Linked DNA regions of Homo sapiens. The protein of the gene in region 1 purifies or fractionates together with the protein of each later gene. This does not show direct contact. Each region holds a gene or a part of one and is shown in the gene's direction. Other genes may lie near its edges.

What was found. Proteins that work in one complex are often made in the same cells at the same time.
Region 2: the proteins of IGHMBP2 (region 1) and NLE1 purify together in Homo sapiens (affinity purification with mass spectrometry; 2 studies listed by BioGRID and IntAct, with this or other methods). This does not show direct contact.
Region 3: the proteins of IGHMBP2 (region 1) and THAP12 purify together in Homo sapiens (affinity purification with mass spectrometry; 2 studies listed by BioGRID and IntAct, with this or other methods). This does not show direct contact.

Annotation. Positions count from the first base shown.
Region 1 is NC_000011.10:68,913,873-68,920,898, forward strand, and holds part of IGHMBP2 (DNA-binding protein SMUBP-2), read left to right. Parts: exon of another isoform or gene 1-478; intron 479-950; coding exon 951-1,151; intron 1,152-3,863; coding exon 3,864-4,011; intron 4,012-7,026. UniProt on the Homo sapiens protein: 5' to 3' helicase that unwinds RNA and DNA duplexes in an ATP-dependent reaction. Specific to 5'-phosphorylated single-stranded guanine-rich sequences. May play a role in RNA metabolism, ribosome biogenesis or initiation of translation.
Region 2 is NC_000017.11:35,139,301-35,146,884, reverse strand, and holds the start of NLE1 (notchless protein homolog 1), read left to right. Parts: upstream 1-4,581; 5' UTR 4,582-4,609; coding exon 4,610-4,627; intron 4,628-4,633; exon of another isoform or gene 4,634-4,762; coding exon 4,763-4,906; intron 4,907-6,818; coding exon 6,819-7,036; exon of another isoform or gene 7,037-7,065; intron 7,066-7,570; coding exon 7,571-7,584. UniProt on the Homo sapiens protein: Plays a role in regulating Notch activity. Plays a role in regulating the expression of CDKN1A and several members of the Wnt pathway, probably via its effects on Notch activity. Required during embryogenesis for inner mass cell survival.
Region 3 is NC_000011.10:76,364,130-76,371,155, reverse strand, and holds part of THAP12 (52 kDa repressor of the inhibitor of the protein kinase), read left to right. Parts: intron 1-5,183; coding exon 5,184-5,304; intron 5,305-6,723; exon of another isoform or gene 6,724-6,818; intron 6,819-7,026. UniProt on the Homo sapiens protein: Upstream regulator of interferon-induced serine/threonine protein kinase R (PKR). May block the PKR-inhibitory function of DNAJC3, resulting in restoration of kinase activity and suppression of cell growth.

The DNA of each region.
Region 1 (7,026 bases):
TCTAGGTCTTGCTGCTCGCCACACAGAAAGCCAGTTACTGAGGACAAGTATTGCCAAGGAAGAGGCTTTATAATCAGATGGTGCAGCCGAGGAGATGAGAGCTCATCCTCAAACCCATCTCCCTGACTAAAACTAGGGGTTTATATAACAGGGAAGAAATGTAGCAATGTGTAAAAAACAGGAACTAGGGAGGGCAAGGAGGCACCTGTAGTGGTCTGGTGATTTTCAGATCTTTGATATTTTTTTGAGAGGCCTCAATGTCCTTTTCTGAGGAAGAAACTCACATAAATAAGTTTGAAGCTTTAACAGCAGATGGTCAATTTCTCTTTATCCAAAAACAACTGTCCATGGGACTATTGAGCCGGTTTCTCCATGATCCTGCCACTGCGCTCCAGCCTGGGCCATAGAGCAATTTGTTTCAAAAAAAAAAAAGAAAGAAAGAAAAATATAGTGGAGCTACAGTGTTCGGGAGACAACTGTGAGTCCATTTGAAACGGGAAGGGTTCCCTTGTCCCCCTCGCAGGGCGTGGGATGGGGGAGTGGCTCGCTTCTTCAGTGTCCTGCTGCTCAGACCTGCAGGGGAGCATACAGATGGGCAGGCTGTGGGCTCTGACCTCATGGCAGTGTCTAGGGGTGAATGTTTACAGCTCTGTGAGTTACAGGGTGCTCTCTTAGTTTGCCGTCTATAGGTGGCTTATGTTAACCAACTCAATTAGATCCCCTTCCTTGTCACAAGGACAGAGGGCTTTCTGTATCCTGGGTTCTTGCCTTGGGGTACCGGAAGAATCGGATCACACGTGGGCTTGGAAAATGAATGCAAGATTTGATTGAGAGCACGTGTGTACATGCCTTGTGCTTCTTTCTACCTTTAAGGCTTTTTGTTGTTTTAGTGTCAACTTCAGTGGTTTGATTACAAAGTAAATGACCAGATCCTAACTTGCGGTTCCCAGGTTCTGTGCTGCGCCCCCTCCAACATCGCCGTGGACAATCTGGTGGAGCGCCTGGCTCTGTGTAAGCAGCGGATTCTGCGCCTGGGACACCCTGCCCGCCTCCTGGAGTCCATTCAGCAGCACTCCCTGGATGCGGTTTTAGCGCGGAGCGACAGTGCCCAGATTGTTGCAGATATCAGGAAGGACATCGACCAGGTCTTTGTAGGTGTCATGGCCAGTGTCCATGTGGGGCGTGGGCTTCTGATCTGCAGTCTTTTTAAGGAGCAAATTTATCTGTCTGCATTCCTCTTGACCTTCTCTTGCTTCTGTCGATTCCTTTAATAATTTTAAAAATTGGGCTGCCCTTTTTTTTTTTTTTTTTTTTTTTTTTTTTTGTGACAGAGTTTTGCTCTCATTGCTCAGGCTGGAGTGCAGTGGTGCAATCTCGGCTCACTGCAACCTCTGCCTCCTGGGTTCAAGCGATTCTCCTGCCTCAGCCTCCCTAGTAGCTGGGACTGCAGGTGCGTGTCACCACGCCTGGCTAATTTTTCTATTTTTAGTTGAGACAGGGTTTCATCATACTGGTCAGGCTGGTCTTGAATTCCTGACCTCAGGTGCTCTGCCCGCCTCGGCCTCTCAAAGTGCTGGGATTACAGGCGTGAGCCACCATGCCTGGCCTTTGTTTTTGTTTTTTTTTTTGAGATGGAGTCTCGCTCTGTCACCCAGGCCGGAGTGTAGTGCTGCTGTCTTGGCTCACTGCAGGCTCCGCCTCCCGGGGTCAAGTGATTCTTGTGCCTCACCCTCCCAAGTAGCTAGGACTACAGGCATGTGCCACCACACCCAACCAATTTTTTTATTTTTAGTAGAGACGGGGGTTTCGCCATGTGGGCCAGGCTGGTCTCGAACTCCTAACCTCAAGTGATCCACCCGCCTCAGCCTCCCAAAGTGCTGGATTACAGGTGTGAGCTACTGTACCCAGCCAGGGCTGCCCATTTTTGATAGAGAACTATACTTAGCATTTAACAGAGTCTCAACTGTCTTCAGAGCACTTGGTTAGTAGGTGTGAGGAATTGTAAAGAAAACATTTTCCGGCCGGATACAGTGGCTCACACGTGCAATCCCAGCACTTTGGGAGGCCGAGGTGGGCGGAACAGTTGAGGTCAGGAGTTCGAGACCAGCCTGGCCCACATGGTGAAACCCCGTCTCTACTAAAAATACAAAAATTAGCTGAGCATGGTGGCGGGCACCTGTATTCCCAGCCACTTGGGAGGCTGAGGCAGGAGAATCTCTTGAACCTGGGAGGTGGAGGTTGCAGTGAGCCATGGTCACTCCACTGCACTCCAGCCTCGGTGACAAAGCAAGACTCCGTCTCAAAAAAAAAACCAAACATTTTCCTGGGTGTCTTTCTGTCTGGTCCTGTTGTCTTGCTAGTAGTGGCAATGGGAGAAAAGTAGCCTGAACATAAACATTGAAAAAATTGGCATCCTCCTAGAGCTTTCCGTCCATTCCACCTTCTCCTTGTGAAAGAGGACACCAGTCGGCTGGAGAAGTAGGGTGGTGGTAGGTTTCTTCCATTTGAGAGGGCCTTTTCCCCCCAGCCCGACACTCCGACACTTTTGAGCTCTTTGGTTCTCCCGTGGACGCTTTGTTGTAGTGTCTGTGCTCACGTCCTGTCCTGTGTGCTCACTGTCGGTACTGGTACTCCTTGGTGTCTTAGTCTCAGAGGAGTGATGGCAGCAGGGAGGGTGCTGGAGCCAGTCTTTGCTCTAATGTCTGTGCTCACATCTTGTCCTGTGTGCTTACGGTCAGCACCTGCACCCTCGGTGTCCTAACCTCGGAGGAGTGGCGGCAGCAGAGAGGGTGCTGGGAGCCAGTCTTTGCTATGGGCCCGTGGCATCGAGGCTGCTTGCGTGGCTGCTTGCATGGCAGCGTGGGGATGGGCCGCCTGCTGGGAGGGGGAGGAAGGATAGATGCATGTCATGCAGGTTCGAGGTGGTGGAGGAATATGCATGATGTTTGCTCATCACAAATGTGGGTGATTTCATTTCCTGTTGAAATTGGTGCTTTTGAGGATTTTCTTTCTCTGTAAATTATACACAGTAAAATACCTCCTGTCACCCCTGCTAAAACTCCATCCCCCAAAGTAGAAATCACAAATAAGGAAAGGTTACATCTTTTTTTTTTTTTTTTTTTTTTTTTTAAAGAATCTTGCTCTGTCGCCCAGGCTGGAGTGCAGTGGTGCAATCTCGGCTCACTGCAACCTCCGCCTCCTGGGTTCAAGCAATTCTCCTGCCTCAGCCTCCCGAGTAGCTGGGATTACAGGCACACACCATGCCCAGCTAATTTTTTGTATTTTTAGTAGAGACAGCGTTTCACTGTGTTGGCCAGGCTGGTCTCGATTTCCTGAGCTCGTGATCTGCCTGCCTCGGGCTCCCAAAGTGCTGGGATTACAGGCATGAGCCACCGCGCCTGACCAGTTCCATCTTTTTGAGATATTAAAGTAAGTTGAGGTTTTGATTATGGGTTGAAAAAATTTTTTTTAATCTCTTGAAAAATGTAGAATAATATGTGAAGCTCAGTCTCTCTATTCGTAAGCTCCTACAACCCAAATCCTGGGGCGGGCAAGCGCTTTTTCTTCCCCAAGATCAAATGCCTGTGTGCAGGGCAGGGCTGGTCCAATTTCTGGTCTCCTCTGAGTTAAAAACGTGGTCTCTTTCCAGGACTTAAAATGTCTCTTCCTGTGACTTCAAGGCAAGTGAGGATGTAAGGTGCTTAGTTGCGTGTGTGTATCTGTGTCTCTTTCAAGGAAGATTTCTGAGTGTTTTTTACGGAGTTTATTGAACTGGACTGAATGATAGAAGCACTTCATAAATAGAGTTGAAGAAGTACAAAGTTGGACTGAAGTAAGTGTATCTCCTTTGTTTTTCTTTATAGGTGAAAAACAAAAAGACCCAGGATAAGAGAGAGAAAAGTAATTTTCGAAATGAAATTAAGCTGTTAAGAAAAGAACTGAAGGAGAGGGAAGAAGCAGCTATGCTCGAGAGCCTCACTTCGGCAAACGTGGTCCTTGCAACAAACACAGGTGAGGGGGCGTCTCCATCCTGCCTGTGTGGCCTCGAAGAAGGAGTTGGGGTGTGTTCCCTCTTCTGTTTTCTGGAAGAGTTTGTTTAGAATTGGTATTTCTTTCTTAAAAGTTGGGTAGGGTTCACTAGGGAAGGCCTCCGTACCTGCAGTTTTCTTCATGGAGAGGTTTTGAACTACAAATTCAACTTCTTCAATAGATAAAGGGCTGTTCAGGTTGTTTTTCTTCCATGAGCTTGTAGCTTTCAAGAAGTTTGTCCATTTTATCTAAACGGTTGAATTTAGAGGCATGAAGTGGTTCCTAATATGCCCTTATTCTTCTTTTACTGTCTGCAGGATCTGTCATGATATAACCTGTATTATTCCTGATACTGGTTTGTGTGCTCTTTTTTTTCCTGCTCTTCTGGCTGGAGGGTTTTTTTTTTTAAATTTAGATTTTATATATACATACATATATATTTTAAGAGACAGGGTCTCTGCCAGGCGCAGTGGCTCACACCTGTAATCCCAGCATTTTGGGATGCCAATGCGGGTGGATCACCTGAGGTCAGGAGTTTGAGACCTGCCTAGCCAACATGGTGAAACCCCATCTCTACTAAAAATACAAAAATTAGCCAGGAGTTGTGGTATGCACCTGTAATTCCAGCTACTTGGGAGGCTGAGGTAGGAGAATTGCTTGAATCCTGGAGGTGGAGGTTGCAGTGAACCAAGATCGCGCCACTGCACTCCAGCCTGGGTGACAGAGCAAGACTCCGCCTCAAAAAAATAAAAACCCCAAAACCAAAAAAACAAAGCAAAACAAAAAAAGAGACAGGGTCTCACTATGTTGCCCAGGCTGGTCTCAAACTCCTGGGCTCAAGGGATCCCCCTGCCTCAGCCTCCTAAAGTGCTAGGATTACAGGTGGACCCACCGCGCCCGGCCTGGCTGCAGGTTTCAATTGATCTTCCCAAAGAACCAGCTTTTGCTTTTTCTCTATTGTTTTTCTGTTTCATGTATTTCCACATTGATCTTTATCGTTTTCTGTTTTCTTGGGCTTGTTCTTTTTCTTGCTTCTTAATGTAGAAGCTGAGATCATTGATTTGAGACCTTTCTTTTTTTCTGATACGAGCATTTAGCTCCATAAATGTCTCCCTAAGTACTGCTTTTGTGGCATCCCACAAATTCTGATCTGTTATATTTCATTCATTTCAAAATGCTATCTCATTTGCCTTTTGGTTTTTTAGAAGTGTTATATAGTTTCTAGATAGTTGGGAAATGTCCAGATATCTTTCTGTTGTTGATCTCTCCTCTCCTCTCCCCTCCCCTCCCCGTCCCCGTCCCCGTCCTGTGTGGGATCTCACTGTGTTGCTCCTCTCCTCTCCTCTCCTCTCTTCTTCTCTCCTCTCCTCATCCCTGTCCCCATCCCCATCCCCGTCGCCTTCCCTATCCCCATCCCCATATGGGATCTCACTATGTTGCCCAGGCTGGACTCAAACTCCTGGGCTCAGGTGATTCTCCCAGCTCAGCCTCCTGAGGAGCTGGGGCTCCCTGCATGTGCCACTGCACCTGGCTTACTTTCTGTTATTGGTTTCTAATTTAGTTCCATGTGGTCAGAGGACATACTCTCATGACTTGGATAGTTCATCGAGACTTACTTTATGGTCCAGAATCTGGTCTCTGTCTTTGTGAGTGTTCCATGCACACTTGATAGAACGTGTGTTCTGATTTTATTGAGTGTTCTGTAAGTAGTCAGATCATGATGGTTGATGATGTGGTTCAAGTCTGCTGTATTGAGAGAGGGACGTTGAAATCTCTGAATATAACTGGACATGTCTGTTTTTCCTGCAGTTCTATTGGTTTTTGCTTCATATCTTTGGAAACTCTTTTACTGGGGTCATAAATGTGGGGCTATGTTTTCTTGATTAATTAACAAATTTATCATTATGAAATGACCTTCTTTATCCCTGATAATATTCTTTTTTTGAAATCTACTTTGTCTGACATTAAAATAATCATTTCAGCATTTCAGCTTGCTTTTCTTTTCATTATGGTCAAAAACCTGTAAAATTTACCATCGTAACCCTTTTTAAGTCTGTAGTACAGTAGCATTAATTGTATGCATGTTGTTGTACAGCAGATCTCTAGAACATTTTCATCTTGCAGACCTGAAGCTCTGGATCTGTTGAACAGCAATTCCCTTTTTCCCTGTCCCAGATCCTGGCAGTCACCATTCTCCTGTCTGTTTCTAAGAATTTTATTATTTTACATACCTCAAGTAAGTGGAACCATGCAGGATTTGTCGTCTTGTGACTGGCTTGTTTTATTTAGTGTAATGCCCTCATGGTTCATCCATGTTGTCCAGCTTTCTTTTTATTTTTAAGAGACAGGGTCCCAATCTGTCACCTAGGCTGGAGTACAGTGGTGCGGTCAAAGCTGTACTCCAGCCTTAACCATGAATGTGGGACCTCCAGCAATCCTCCCACATTGACCTCCTGAGTTGCTGGGATTAACAGGCGTGAGCCATTGCACCCAGCCCCCACCTTTCTTTCAACTAGTGTTAGTGTGATCTATCTTTATCCTTTTTCTTAGAACCTATTTGTGTCTTTATGTTTAAAGTGATCTTTTAAAAAATATTTGAGACACGGTCTCACTGTGTTACCCCTAACTGGAGTTGCAGTGGTGCAATCATGGCTCCCTGCAGCCTCAACCTCCTGGGCTGAAGTGATTCTCCCACCTCAGCCTCCTGAGTAGCTGGGACAACAGACACGTGCTATCACACCCTGCTCATTTTTTTGATTTTTAATAGAGACAAGATCTCACTGTGTTGCCCAGGCTGGTCTGGAGTTCCTGGACTCAAGTAGTCCTTCCACCTCTGCCTCCCACAGTGCTAGGATTACAAGTGTAAGCCACTGTGCCTGGCCTGTTTATTTCTTTTTAAAGAGAGAGTCTTGCTCTGTTGCTCAGACTGGAGTGCAGAGGCGTGATCATAACTTGCTGTAGCCTTGCATTCTTTGGCTCAAGTAATCCTCCCACCTC
Region 2 (7,584 bases), on another chromosome or scaffold:
GTTCCTGAAGCAAATTTATGACGTTGTCCCCAGTTGGACCCAGAACTCTTCTGCATTTCAGTGCCCTCAAGCCTGGGCTGTGAGCTTCCTCCTGGAAGGCAAAGACAGCATCCCATATAGCTTGTCCCCCAACCCCCTTCCTGCACAGGTTCTGGCACATTCAGTGTCCGAAGTGTGTTTCCTGAATGGAATGAATGGATGGATGAATGAATGAATGAATGAATGGTGTCTTCATGATGATGATTTCCTCCACTCACCTCTCATCCCTCTCCCCTCCACCCCACACATATCTTCAAACTTATCTGGCCAGAGCTGAGAAAGACACTGAAGAAAATCCCAGGTGGAATCATTCATACTAGATTCTACTCGCAGACCTGTGACCTTGGACACACAGCTATATGACCTTGGACAAGTTGTAGCGCCCTGCTGGACACAAAGCCCAGCCCTAACACATGTTTGTTGAATGAGCAAATAAATGAATGAATAGATGGATGAATTCCCTGCCTTCATGTTATCACAAGCCCTGGGCCCTTTTGTGGGGCAAGCTCTCTGCAGCAATGAGGTAATAGGATAAAGGATCCTGACATTGGCAGAGACCTGCGGTTCTGTGACTTTAGGTCCAAGGGATCTTATATTCAAATGCTGATTCAGTAATTCATTCCACAAGCATTTCTTAAACATCTTTTTGTTGTTGTTGTTGTTGTTGTTTGAGACAGAGTCTTGCTCTGTTGCCCAGGCTGGAGTGCAGTGGCACGATCTCGGCTCACTGCAACCTCCACCTTCTGGGTTCAAGAGATTCTCCTGCCTCAGCCTCATGAGTAGCTGGGATTACAGACATCCACCACCATGCCTGGCTAATTTCTGTATTTTTAGTAGAGATGGAGTTTCACCATGTTGGCCAGGCTGATCTTGAACCCCTGACCTCGTGATCCACCTGCCTAGGCCTCTCAAAGTGCTGGGATTACAGGCGTGAGCCACCGCGCCTGGCCCACATTTCTTAAACATTTATTATGTGTGAGGAACTGTGAAGCATAGAACACTGGTGAGGACAAGGATTTGTGTCTATGTTGTTCCCTCACATATTCCAAGCGTTTGTAATGGTGTGGGGCACAGTGGCTGACACCTGTAATCCCAGCACTTTGGGAGGCCAAGGCAGGCGGATCACCTGAGGTCAGGAGTTCCAGACCAGCCTGGCCAACATGGCGAAACTCCATCTCTGCTAAAAACACAAAAGTTAGCCGGGCATGGTGGCGGGTGCCTGTAATCCCAGCTACTAAGGAGTCTGAGGCAGGAGAATCACTTGAACCCCAGAGGCAGAGGTTGCAGTGAGCCAAGATCATGCCACTGCACTCCAGCTTTGGTGACAGAGCAAGATTCCATCTCAAAAAAGAAGAAAAAATAAAAAGAAGGTGCTCAATGCTATTTGTTGAATGAATGAATGAATGAAATAATTCCATGGATCTGTGATTCTGTGATTTCTTTTTTTTGTTCGTTTGTTTGTTTTGGTTTTTTTTTTAATTGAGACAGGGTCTCGCTGTCACAAGTGGAAAGCAGTGGCATGATCACGGCTGACTGCAGCCTTGACCTCCCAGGTTCAAGCAATTCACCCATCTCAGCCTCCTGAGTAGCTGGGACTATAGGTGCATGCCACCTGGCTATTTTTTTTGTAGAGACATGATCTCACCATGTTGCCCAGTCTGGTCTCAAACTCCTGGGCTCAAGTGATACTCCCACCTCGGCCTCCCAAAGTGCTGAGATTACAGGTGTGAGCCACTGTGCCAGCTGGATCTGTGATTTCTAAATGTGAGGAATACCAGGATGTTTTGAAAACATACAACAGGGAAATATGACATCATATGACATCATTTCAAAGGTTTCCCTGCGTAAGTGATAAATGAGTTGATACACATAGAACTCCGACAACGTCTGGCAGAGAGTAGGCACTCAATACATTTATTGGATGAATGAATAAATATTCAAGGCAAGACCTGAAGAATGAGGAACTATTCCTGTATTAGTTGGCTCTGGCTACCATAACAAAATAGCACAGACAGGGAGGCTTCAACAACAGAAATTTATTTTCTCACAGCTCTGGAGTAGAGAAATCCAAGGTCAAGGTGCCATGAGGGTTGGTTTCTGGTGAGGCCTCTCTTCCTGGATGCAAACAGCCACCTTCTCACTGTGTCCTACTATGGCCTCATCTTTGTGTGTGCTCAGGGAGGCAGTGCGGGGGGCGGGGAGAGACAGAGAGAGAGTACTCTGGAGTCTCCTCATTTCACAAGGGCACCAGTTCTATCTGATTAGTGTCCTACCCATACAAACTCACTTATTAACCCTTCCTATGTCCTTTCAGGGCCCATCTCCAGGCCAGGCATGGTGGCTTACACCTGTAATCCCAGCACTTTGGAAGGCCTAAGACAGGAAGATCATTTGAGGCCAAGAGTTCGAGACCAGCTTAGGCAACAGAGTGACAGCCTTGTCTCTACAAAAATTTTTAAAAGTTAGCCGAGTGTCAGGTATAGTGGCACACACCTGTTGTCCTAGCTACTCAGAACACTAAGGTAAGAAGAGCACTTGAGCCTGGGAGTTTGAAGCTGTGTGAGCTATGATCACACTACTACACTCTAGTCTGGGCAACAGAGTGAGACCCTGTCTCTAAAAAAAAAAAAAAAAAACAATAATAATAATATATGCTATCTCCAAATACAGCCACATTCAGAGCTAGGGCTTCAATATATAAATTAGGGCAGAGGCGTCCAATCTTTTGGCTTCTCTGGGCCACAGTGGAAAAAGAATTGCCTTGGGCTACACATAAAATACACTAATGATAGCTGATGAGCTGAAAAAAAAAATCGAAAGAAAATCTCATAATGTTTTAAGAAAGCTTACGAATTTGTGTTGGGCTGCATTCAAAGCCATCCTGGGCTGCATGCAGCCTGTGGCCCAGGGGTTGGACAAGCTTGAATTAGGGGAAGGGCACAATTCACTCCATAACAGTTCCAGACAGAAAAAACTGCATGGGCAAAATCACTGATGCAGGAAGAGCCATGCCTTGTAAGAACTCAGAAAAAGCCAGCAAGATTTAACCTAAAGAGAGGGGTGGCTGGACATAGCAAGGCTGAATTGACCATTATAAGGAGTGTTCTTTTTTTCCTGCATGTAAGGGAGCCGTCGCAGGGTTTGAGGGTGAAGAGCAGCAGGCCAGATTTTTGGTCTGAAAAGATAACCCTGGCTGCATCGTGGAGAATGGGTAGAAAGAGGCAGGAATGGAAATGGGGGGGCTCATCGGGAGGCTGTTGTAGCGGTCCAGGCAGGTGATGATGGTGACTCTGACCAGAGTGAGGCAGTGGAGATGGGGAGAGCAGATTCAAGCTGTGTTCATGAGGATGACTTGGCAGAGCTTGAGACTGCCTGAGCAGTGGAGGGAGAGAGAGGAGAGTTGGCAAGGGAGATCCTTCGTTTCAGGCAAAAGAGCTCAAGTTCATTGCTGTCTGCTTCAGTTCCTCAGTAATATGGGGAGAAAAGGGTTGTAAGAATTAAATGAGTTATGTGGGAAAGCACTTAGAACAATTCCTGACTTGTTGATGTCATTATCACTATTATTGCTTTACAGCATTGATGATTGTAGAAATGATTTGCTTTTGTACTCGAGTATTATTGAGTTGATCCATTTTATTTATTTATTTATTTATTTATTTATTTATTTATTTATTTATTTATTGAGACAGAGTCTTGCTCTGTCATCCAGGCTGGAGTGCAGTGGTGAGAGCTCGGCTCACTGCAACCTCTGCCTCCCAGGTTCAAGAGAATCTACCACCTCAGCCTCTCCAGTAGCTATGACCACAGGCGCATGCCACCACGGCTGGTTAATTTTTTTGTATTTTTAGTAGAGACCTGGTTTCACCATGTTGGCCAGGCTGGTCTCGAACTCCTGGACTCAAGTGATCTGCTCGCCTGGGCCTTCCAAAGCGCTGGGATTACAGGTGTCAGCCACCACGCCCAGCCTTGACTTGATCCATTTTTAAAAGGATACTAATTTCTAGGCTAGGCGTGGTGGCTCACACCTGTAATCCCAGCACTTTGGGACACTGAGGCTGGGGAGTGGGGGACTTGCTGCTTGAGTTCAGGAGTTTGAGACCAGCCTGGGCAACATAGTGAGACCTCGTCTCTACAAAAAATGAGAAAAAAATAACCGGGCAGGGTGTCATGTGCCTGTAGTCCAGGCTACTCTGAGGCTGAGGTGGGAGGATCGCTGTGCCAGAAAGTTCGAGACTGCAGTGAGCCGTGGTGGCACCACTGCCCTCCAGTCTGGGCGACGGAGTGAAACTCTGTCTCAAAATGAAATTAAATTAAAATGGGGCAAGAATCCCTGTTGTGAAGAGTCAAAAGTTTACTGTGTCCTCTAAGACCCTGGCGAAAAATAAATGTGAAGGCTGTTGAGGGGCGGGAGGAGCACCAGGTAAGCCCATTTCTAATCCCTGAGGCCGTGCGCAGCGGGACGCTTCTCCTCCCCAACAGCAGAGGGCGATGTGGCCGGCGGCGACCCCGCCCGACCACGGAGACGGCGCTCTGTCTGCCGGGCTCTTTCTCCTCCACGTGGGGACGCAGGATGGCGGCAGCAGTGCCGGTGGGTGTGCGTGGATGGGGGCGGGGGGCGTCGCCGCGGGGCGCTAGGGCCCGGGTCCCTGAGGCCTGAGAGAGGCGAAGTGGGGCCCTTCTGGGCGGGCGACCAGACTGACTCCCGCCCCACTTGCTCGCGCAGGACGAGGCGGTGGCGCGCGATGTGCAGCGGTTGCTAGTGCAGTTCCAGGATGAGGGCGGGCAGCTGCTGGGTTCCCCGTTCGACGTGCCCGTGGACATCACCCCGGACAGGCTGCAGCTCGTGTGCAACGCGCTACTGGCCCAGGTAAGTGGCTGGCCAGGGCGGCCTCGCATCTCCACCCCCGGGCGGATGCGGTGGGGGAATCATATTACCGAGGGTCTGCGGTTCATGGTCCCCCGCTAACGGACTGTGGTGACCCACCTGGCGTGAGCTCCCACCTATGTCAGAGATGGAATCAGTGGCATAGCGCTTTACACGCCAACCAAAGGGGTCCACCTGCGGAGAGGGGCCTAGCTTTGAACGCACCGGATGCTGTATTTCATTGATTCTTTGTCACAGTCCCCCAGTCTGGGACACGTTAATATCCCCATTTTACAGCGTGGCCCGGAGGGACTCAGTATTTTGCACGATGCTATGTAGTAGGTAGCAGATTTGGAATTGGAACCCAAAACTATCCGAATACCCATGCTTTTATTTATTTATTTATTTACCTTTTTTTTTTTTTTTTTTGAGACGGAGTCTCACTTTGTCGCCAGGCTGGCAAGCTGGAGTGTAGTGGCGTGATCTCTGCTCACTGCAATCTCTGCCTCCCAGGTTCAAGCGATTCTCCTGCCTCAGCCTCCCGAGTAGCTGGGACTACAGGCGCGCGCCACCACACCCAGCTAATTTTTGTATTTTTAGTGGGGACTGGGTTTCACCACGTTGGCCAGGATGGTCTCGATCTCTTGACCTCGTGATCCTCCCGCCTTGGCCTCCAAAGTGCTGGGGATTACTGGCGTGAGCCACCGCACCCGGCCTTTGCTTTTAACCTTTAAGCCAGTGTGTTTACTGAAGAGCTGCCCTGGGGACAGGGGAGGTCCTTAAAATTGCAGTTCCTGGACCCCATCCCAGCCTTACTAAACCAAACTCTGGGATGAAGCAGAAAGTCTACATTTTTTAACAGGCGTTTTGGGAGCTTTTTACACAAATATAGTGTAGTGTGGTAGTTTGGGAAACACTGCATAATGCTATATGCTAATCCTATCTTGGACGTAAAGAACCTGAATTAATCATTGGCAATAGGACATTGAACTAATTACTTAGTTGTTCTGAGCCTCTGCTTTTGAAAACTGTCAGTGGGAATATTAGTATCTACTTCCCACGGTTGTTATGAGATGCAGATAAAGAATTTCAGGCCGGGTGCAGTGGCTTATGCCTGTAATCCCAGTACTTTGGGAGGCTGAGGTGGGCAGATCACTAGAGGTCAGGAGTTCGAGACCAGCTTAGCCAATATGGCGAAAACAGTCTCTACTGAAAATACAAAAATTAGCCAGGCGTGGTGGCAGGCGCCTGTAGTCCCAGCTCCTCGGGAGGCTGAAGCAGGAGAATTGCTTGAACCCAGGAGGCAGAGGTTGCAGTGAGCTGAGATCTCACCACTGCACTCCAGCCTGAGTAACAGAACGAGACTCCATCTCAAAAAAAAAAGAAAAAAGAATTTCCAAGTGCTGTGTAAGTGTCCTGCAACTGCTGTTCAGTGACTTAAAAGGTCTTGCTAGGCTGGGCACAGTGGCTCACGCCTGTAATCCCAGCACTTTGGGAGGCCGAGGCAGGTGGATCACCTGAGGTCAGGAGCTTGAGACCAGCCTGGCCAATGTGGCGAAACCCCGTATCTACTAAAAATATAAAACTTAGCCAGGCGTGGTGATGGGTGCCTGTAATCCCAGCTACTCGGGAGGCTGAGGCAGGAGAATCTCTTGAACCCAGGACGCGGAGGTTGCAGTGAGCAGAGATTGCTCCACTGCACTCCAGCCTGGGTGACAGAGCGAGACTCTTGTCTCAAAAATAAATAAATAAATAAATAAAAGGTCTTGCTCAATGGGCAATGATGGGGGTATCCCTAGCACGATGGCTGAAAAGAAGAAGCTTCACCTCCCACAGCTCAGTGGGGAGCATCCCTGGCAGAGGGTGCCCCTGCACATCCATTGTTGCGGGTTTGTCCTTTACCATTGTCCTTCAGGAGGATCCCCTGCCACTGGCTTTCTTTGTCCACGATGCTGAGATCGTCTCCTCACTGGGGAAGACGTTGGAGTCCCAGGCAGTGGAGACAGAGAAGGTCCTAGACATCATCTACCAGCCACAGGCTATCTTCAGAGTCCGGGCTGTGACTCGCTGCACCAGCTCCTTGGAGGGTCACAGTGAGGCAGTCATTTCTGTGGCCTTCAGCCCTACGGGAAAGTAAGGACAGCTGCAGACTCATGGAGGGGGTATGTGGGGGTGCAGTCTTTGCCTGGTTTGGGGAGGGTCTCCCAGAGTTATAATTGATGGGGCCTCAGGGCTGCCTACCATAGACCCAAGCTCTGGACTCAGCTTGCAATTAAGGGACTTCCTCAGTAGGGCATGGTCCCCAAAGGCTGCTTAAGGACCCCTGCCTTGGACAAACCTCTCCTAGACTTGATTTTTCAAGATCTGAGCTGTGTGACTTGTATAAATCACTTAACCTTTCCGAGTTAATTTTTCATCTGTGAAACTGGGATTAGTTGCTTCTCTCAAACTTAGAAAGGTAATGAGAAGCTTCAAAAGCTGGTTATAGCTGTGGAGAGGAAAGAAATGGCCTCCTGATGTATTCTCCCAGAGGACAGCATCAGTATTGTCTTTCTCCCTTCCAGGGGCGAGGAAAGAGTCCAGTTCCATATTCTATTCACAGAAAGTGATTGAATAGGTGGCACAAATGCACATGTGCAGTGTCAAGCATCCTCTCTTCTTCCCCAGGTACCTGGCCAGTG
Region 3 (7,026 bases), 7.5 Mb from region 1:
GGCAGATGACCAGTTTGGAAGAGATACTAGTAGACCAGGTAAAAAATTATGGTAGCTTGGACCAGGGTGTTATTGATGGAGAGAAGCAGATGGATTTGGGGAGTCATTCCACTGTGCTAAGGGAAAAGTCTACAAAATCTGGAGTACAGGGAACAGAACAATGACAGGGAGAGCTGGGAAAGGGGAGGCATTGGTAAAAATTTGAGACGAGTATGTAAGTGGGTATGTATGTATATAAATATATATACATATTCATAATACACATATGAATACACATGTGAAAACACTTATTGTGGTCATATATATATATATTTTTTTTTTTTTTCTTTTTTTTTGAGACGGAGTCTCGCTCTCTTGCCAGGCTGGAGTGCAGTGGTGCGATCTTGGCCTACTGCAACCTCCACCTCCCGGATTCAAGTGATTCTCCTACCTCAGCCTCCCGGTCATATATAATTTTTATAATTTTATTCATGTAAAAACGTATACATAGAAGAGCTACGTGCGGTGGCTCATGCCTGTAATCCTAGCACCTTGGGAGGCCGAGGCAGGACGATCACTTCACCCAGGCGTTTCAGACTAACCTGGGGAACATGGTGAAACCCCGTCTCTACAAAAAATACAAAAAGTTAGCCAGGCATGGTGGCGTGTGCCTGTAGTCCCAGCTACATGGGAGACTGAGGTGGGAGAATCGCTTGAACCCAGGAGATGGAGGCTGCAGTGAGCCGAGATTGCACCACTGCACTCCAGCCTGTGCAACAGAGTGAGATCCTCTCTCTCAAAAAAAAACCCCAAAAAACATATGCACAGAAGATCACAAATGATAACTGTACATCATGTTGGATTTTCAGAGTAACATATCCATGAAAATTTCACCGGGATTTTTAAAAAATAGAGTATCACTAGCGTCCCAAACTTCCTCTGCTTCATGGTTCTCCCAGCCATTATCCCATTCTCCCCAGTGGTAGCCACTGTGACTTCACATACCTTGGATTAGTTAGGTTTTGGGGGGAAGAGGGAGAATGAATGGAAGCTTTATTATTGTTTGAGATATAGAACATTAGCAGCACCTCAGTAGCCTCTTTTGTGCCCACTCCCAGTTGTTACCCTCCCCAAATGTATCTGCTATTCCATCACTGTGTTGAGGCGGAGCCAGACCACCCCATATTTAAAGATTCACTAGAAGGGCTTGCAGGACTCAGTATATGGTTGTACTCACAGTGAAGATTTATTGCATTGTAGTAAGGATACACATCTGGATCATGAGGGAAAAAGACAGGCACAGTCTGAAGGAATCCATGTATAGGCTTCCCTATGCTCCGTCTTTCCCATGAGGGGGTCACCCAGAGCCCGTTTTTCCCCAGTGGTGGAAATGTGGCAACACGTGCCGTGTTTCTGTGGAGAGAAGACCGTTAGAGACGTAGTGTCCGAGGTTTTTACTGGGTCCTGATCACATAGGCAGCCTCTGCCTGGCATATAATAAAATTCCAAATTCCCAGAAGGGATGGCAGGTGTTCAGCAGGTGTGCTTGTTTGCACAAGCAGTCTAGGCACATTGAGCTGCATTATCAGTTAGGAAAAATTTTATTTCTGTGTATGGAACTGTTTACCAACCAAGTTCCCGGATACCAGCCCAAGGTCCTTAACAAACAGGCCTTTCTAAGGACAGCAGCCTGAGGTCTGCTGTGTTAACTCTTTTTCTGAACAATCACTATGAATGAGTTTTGCCTGTTCTAGAATTTCATATCAAAGGAATCATGTAGTATGTACTCCTGGCTTCTTCTGCTTAACATTACGTTTGTGAGATTGTAGATAGTTTGTTCATTTCATAGCCAAGTAGTATTCCATTGAATGAATATACCACAATTTATCCATCCTGCTGTTGATGGGCAAAGTTACTTCACCTTCTCCCCAATATTTGGTATTACCTCTTTTACATTGTAGTCATTCTTGTGGGTATGTAGTAATTTGTTTTGGCTTTAATTAGCATTTCCCTGATGGCAAATGAGATCGAGCATTTTTTTTTCATCTATGTATTGCCATTTTTATAACCTTTTTATTATAAAGTGCCTGTTCAAGGCCCCTTGCCTATTTTTATGTTGGGTTATTTATTTGTAGGAGTTCTTCATATATATTTTGAATGTGAGTCCATTGTTAGATATATGTATTGCAAATATCTGACATTTTGTGGTCTGCCATTTCACTCTTAAATGGCTTCTTTTAATGAAGAAAAGTTATTAACTTTAAAGTAGCCTAATTTATATATCTTTTCCTCTAGCATTTGTGCTGTTGCCTTAAGAGATCTTTATTCCAAGGTCATGAAGATAATCTCCTGTGTTATCTTTTAGTGGCTTTATTGTTTTACCTTTCATATTTAGATCTCCAATCACTTGGAACTTATTTTTGTGTATGGTGTACAAGTAGGAGTTAAGATTTATTTTTTTCATGTAGATATTCAGCTGACTCGGCCCTATTTATTGGAAAAGAAAAATCCATATTTGCTGCTGTTCAGAGCTACCTTTAAGTATCTGCAGTGCTCTATTTTGTTTCACTGTTCTGTCCTTCTGCCAGTACTTGTCTTAATAAGCTTTACAGTAAGTCTTAATATCTGGTAGTGTAATTCTTTCAACCTCCTTTTTCCTCTCTCTCTCTCAAGATTATCTTGGTTATCCCTGGTTCTTTAATGTTGTGTATAAAAAGTTTTAGAATAATTTGTCATTTCTTTCTCTTGCTCTCTCTCACAAACTTACTGGGCTTGTGATTATATTGAATTAGTAAATGGGTTTGGGGAGAATTGACATCTTTGGAATTTAGTGTGCCAGTTCATAAACTTGTGTATTTATTTAAGTTTGCTTTAAAAAGATTATTAGAGGTCTTGCACTTCTTTCACTAGATTTATTCTTAAGTAGTTCATATAGAAAGTCAGGTGTATTTGATTAGGCTCTCTGCCTGATGCCCATTCTGTTCTTGATTGTCTGAATAAGAGTTGCTGTTGATATCAGAAAGCTGTTTCAACTTAGTTCGGAGGTAATATGTACAGTATTGCTCTGTGTGGAAGGTCTCCAGAGATTTAAGAATTTAAAAAACAAACAACTGTAGCAGTATGGCAAATTATTTTATAGTGAGATCGTTTTTATACTTAATATTTGGATTTTGAAACATGAAATGTTTATAATCATAATGTACAACTGTGTAAAAGTGTGATTAAATTGTGAACATCTTAGGCATCGTTACTGTGAGCAGTAATACTTGTTGGTCAAATGAAATGCTGTACAATTTAGGTGTAGTTTTTTAAAAATCATAGCATTTTACCTTGATTTGACATTTTTAGAGTAGAGAGAATTAAGTGTCAGGGGCATGTATGTTGGGGGGAGGTGGACAATAGTGTTAAAACATAAAAAAAAAATACTGTGATTTAATTATAAAGGAATATGTTGGGCCGGGCGCAGTGGCTCGCGCCTGTAATCCTAGCACTTTGGGAGGCCAAGGTGGGCAGATCACCTGCGATCTGGAGTTCGAGACCAAGCTAGCCAACGTGCTGAAACCCCATCTGTACTATAAATACAAAACTTAGCTGAGTGTCGTGGTGCACGCCTATAATCTCAGCTCCTTGGGTGGCTGAGGCAGGAGAATTGCTTGAACCTGGGAGGCAGAGGTTGCAGTGAGCTGAGATCACACCACTGCACTCCACCCTGGGCTAAAGAGCAAGACACCATCTCAAAAAAATAATTTGTGATACTGTTTATCCACGGCAGAACTTTTATTCTTAGAAATTTGAGGAATGGGCCGGGCGCGGTGGCTCACGCCTGTAATCCCAGCACTTTGGGAGGCCGAGGCGGGCAGATCACCTGAGGTCGGGAGTTCGAGACCAGCCTGACCAACATGGAGAAACCCAGTCTCTACTAAAAATACAAAATTAGCCAGGCGTGGTAACGCATGCCTGTAATCCTAGCTACTTGGGAGGCTGAGACAGGAGAATCGCTTGAACCCGGGAAGCAGAGGTTGCAGTGAGCCAAGATCATGGCATTGCACTCCAACCTGGGCAACAAGAGCAAAACTCTGTCTCAAAAAAAAAAAAGAAAAGAAAAGAAATTTGAGGAAAGATCTAGTTGTGACTTTAGCAAGTTACTTAATATTTCTGTGCCTTCATCTGCACAAGGGGGATATTAATAGTACCCATCTTTGGAAAGGACTTAGAACGTGTCTGGCTCATAATAAGTGCTTATTATTAGCTTTTCTGAAAATATTTAAGCACCGAGAGGGCATGGACTTTGTCTTGTTCTCTGTCTTCAACACTTTTTGTGTACTAGATTGTGTAGTCACAGTCCCTGCATTCATGGAGCTTGCAATCTAGTCAGCACGTATTACTGTAGATAATAATTTGTGTTCATAGGAAGATAAACGAATACAGCCTTTATGCTTCCCTTAGAAACTAGTTATTTAAAGAACATCTAGTTGCTGATTTTTTTTTTTTTTTCCGAGACGGAGTCTGGCTCTGTCACCCAGGCTGGAGTGCAGTGGCGCAATCTCGGCTCACTGCAAGCTCCGCCTCCCGGGTTCACGCCATTCTCCTGCCTCAGCCTCCCGAGTAGCTGGGACTACAGGCGCTCGCCGCTTCGCCCAGCTAATTTTTTGTATTTTTAGTAGAGACGGGGTTTCACCGGGTTAGCCAGGATGGTCTCGATCTCCTGACCTCCTGATCTGCCTGCCTTGGCCTCCCAAAGTGCTGGGATTACAGGCGTGACAACACGCCCGGCCTAATTGCTGATTTTCTACAGTGACAGTGTTGTTTTGTATGCTTGTTGAAGTTGAAATCCTGAAGGGAATGTTAAGCTGTGAGCCTTGTGGCTGTGCATGCAGCTTTCTGCTTGTTCTGCTGATGGTTGAATCTTCTCTGATGTTTTGGGAGTTGGAAGATGCAGGTTTCAGTTCTAGTTCTGCTGATGATTTTGTACTTCCCTCCAAACAAGTTACTTCTTAACCTTGTCTGTAATTGAAATGTTGGTACTAAATGACTTCTAAGGTTTTTTCCAACTGTTATTTTGTTATTAATCAAATTCTCCAAATTATGTTCTCAGGGAGGGGAGCAGGAATCCGTTGTTATTAATGTATGTTTGCCTTAAAACTGAAGGCTGAAATTTAAATGCTGAGCTCATTTTCATAATTGTATTTTGGTTTTATTTATAGATGCCAGAAGTGGGTGGAGAACTGTAGGAGAGCAGACTTAGAAGATAAAACACCTGATCAGCTAAATAAACATTATCGATTATGTGCCAAACATTTTGAGACCTCTATGATCTGTAGAACTGTGAGTAATAGAAGAGCTTGGTGTCTCTCTGTTTGACTTGATTTCTCTCTCTCACTGTGTCTGGTTGGAAATGTAAGTATTTACCAATGTTGGAAGGTATTCCTATATCCTGCCACTTTAAGATGAAGACAGATTTGGAGCTGAAAAGTATCTGTTTTGTTCTTAAAATCCTGATTTTGCCGGGGGCCTATAATCCCAGCACTTTGGGAGGCCGAGGCAGGAAGACCACTTGAGCTCAGGAGTTTGAGACCAGCCTGGGCAACATGGCCAGATGCCGTCGCTACAGAAAATACCAAAAAAACTAGCGAGGTGTGGTGACGTATGCCTGTAGTCCCAGCTACTTGGGAAGCTGAGATGGGAGGATACTTGAGCCCATGACGTCGGGGCTGCAGAGAGTTGTGTTCATGCCACTACACTCCACTCTGGGCGACAGAGTGAGCGCTTGTCTGGAAAAAAAACTCAAAATGATTAAAACAAAACAAAACAAAACAAAACTCTTCGGTTCCTGGTGCCCCATTTCTACTCACCCAAGGTAACTACTTTTTTTTTTTTTTTTTTTAAAGACAGTCTTGCTCTGTCACCCAGGCTGGAGTGCAGTGGCGCTATCTTAGCTCACTGCAACTTCTGCCACCTCCCCCACCTCCTGGGCTCAAGCGATTCTCTCTCCTCAGCCTCCCAAGTAGCTGAGATTACAGGCATTGTGCCACCACGCCCAGCTAATTTTTGTACTTTTAGTAGAGGTGGGATTTCTCCATGTTGGCCAGGCTAGTCTCAATCTCCTGACCTCAAGTGACCCGCCCACCTCGGCCTCCCAAAGTGCTGGGATTACATGTATGAGCCTCCACACCCGGCTGAGGTAACCACTTTTAAATATTATTTAGTCTTCAGGAAAATTTTAGATGATTATAAAAGTATATGTTTATTTAAGGTAAAGTTGGTGTTTTTATTTGGAGCTCTTTAGAGCTTTTTTATGAGTAAAATTTTCATCTCGGAATGGAGCTCTTGTTTTCATGTTTTTGTATGTACTATTAGAACCAACTTTTAATTTTTATGTGGTAGATATAATGGTAAACAAATTATCCAGGTAATGTGGAAAAACATTTTCATCAATAATATGTAATTTCATATCAGGACCTACTGTTAACTGTGTGAGCTTGGCCAAGTCACTTCCCCTCTTTGGGCCCCAGTTCCTAATAAGGAGATTAGGCCAGGTAATTCCTGAGTTCTAAGATTTTTAACCCTCTGTGATTCTCTTGCTGTGATTTATAAAAGGCACAAATAAGGCAAATTTGATTGAAATGAAGCAGACTTGTTTCAGTGTAACTAATGTAACACCTCAGATATTGGGATAGACATAAACTTGATTCAAAGGTACACTATATGTTGTTATGCAGCAATTTATTTTGATATTTTTTTCAGATACATTTTGCAGAGGCATCAGAAAACTAAAGAATGATTGGGTTATTTTATTTCTCAAAATTAATTGAAGCAGATACTTGTGAAGTCATTGGGAGGTGAGCCAATTCCGGTTCAACAGTTTAATCACAAATATTTGAGGAATATTTTTGCCTTGATTTGTTAAAAGGGTAATAATGATCAACCAAAATAAAAGGTTTCATATGTTTAAAAGGCAAACTACTTTTATGTTCTTGACATGAAGTAAAAATATCCCAAATTATTTTAAATACATTTGCCATATGCATTTTTGCATTTTTATTTTAG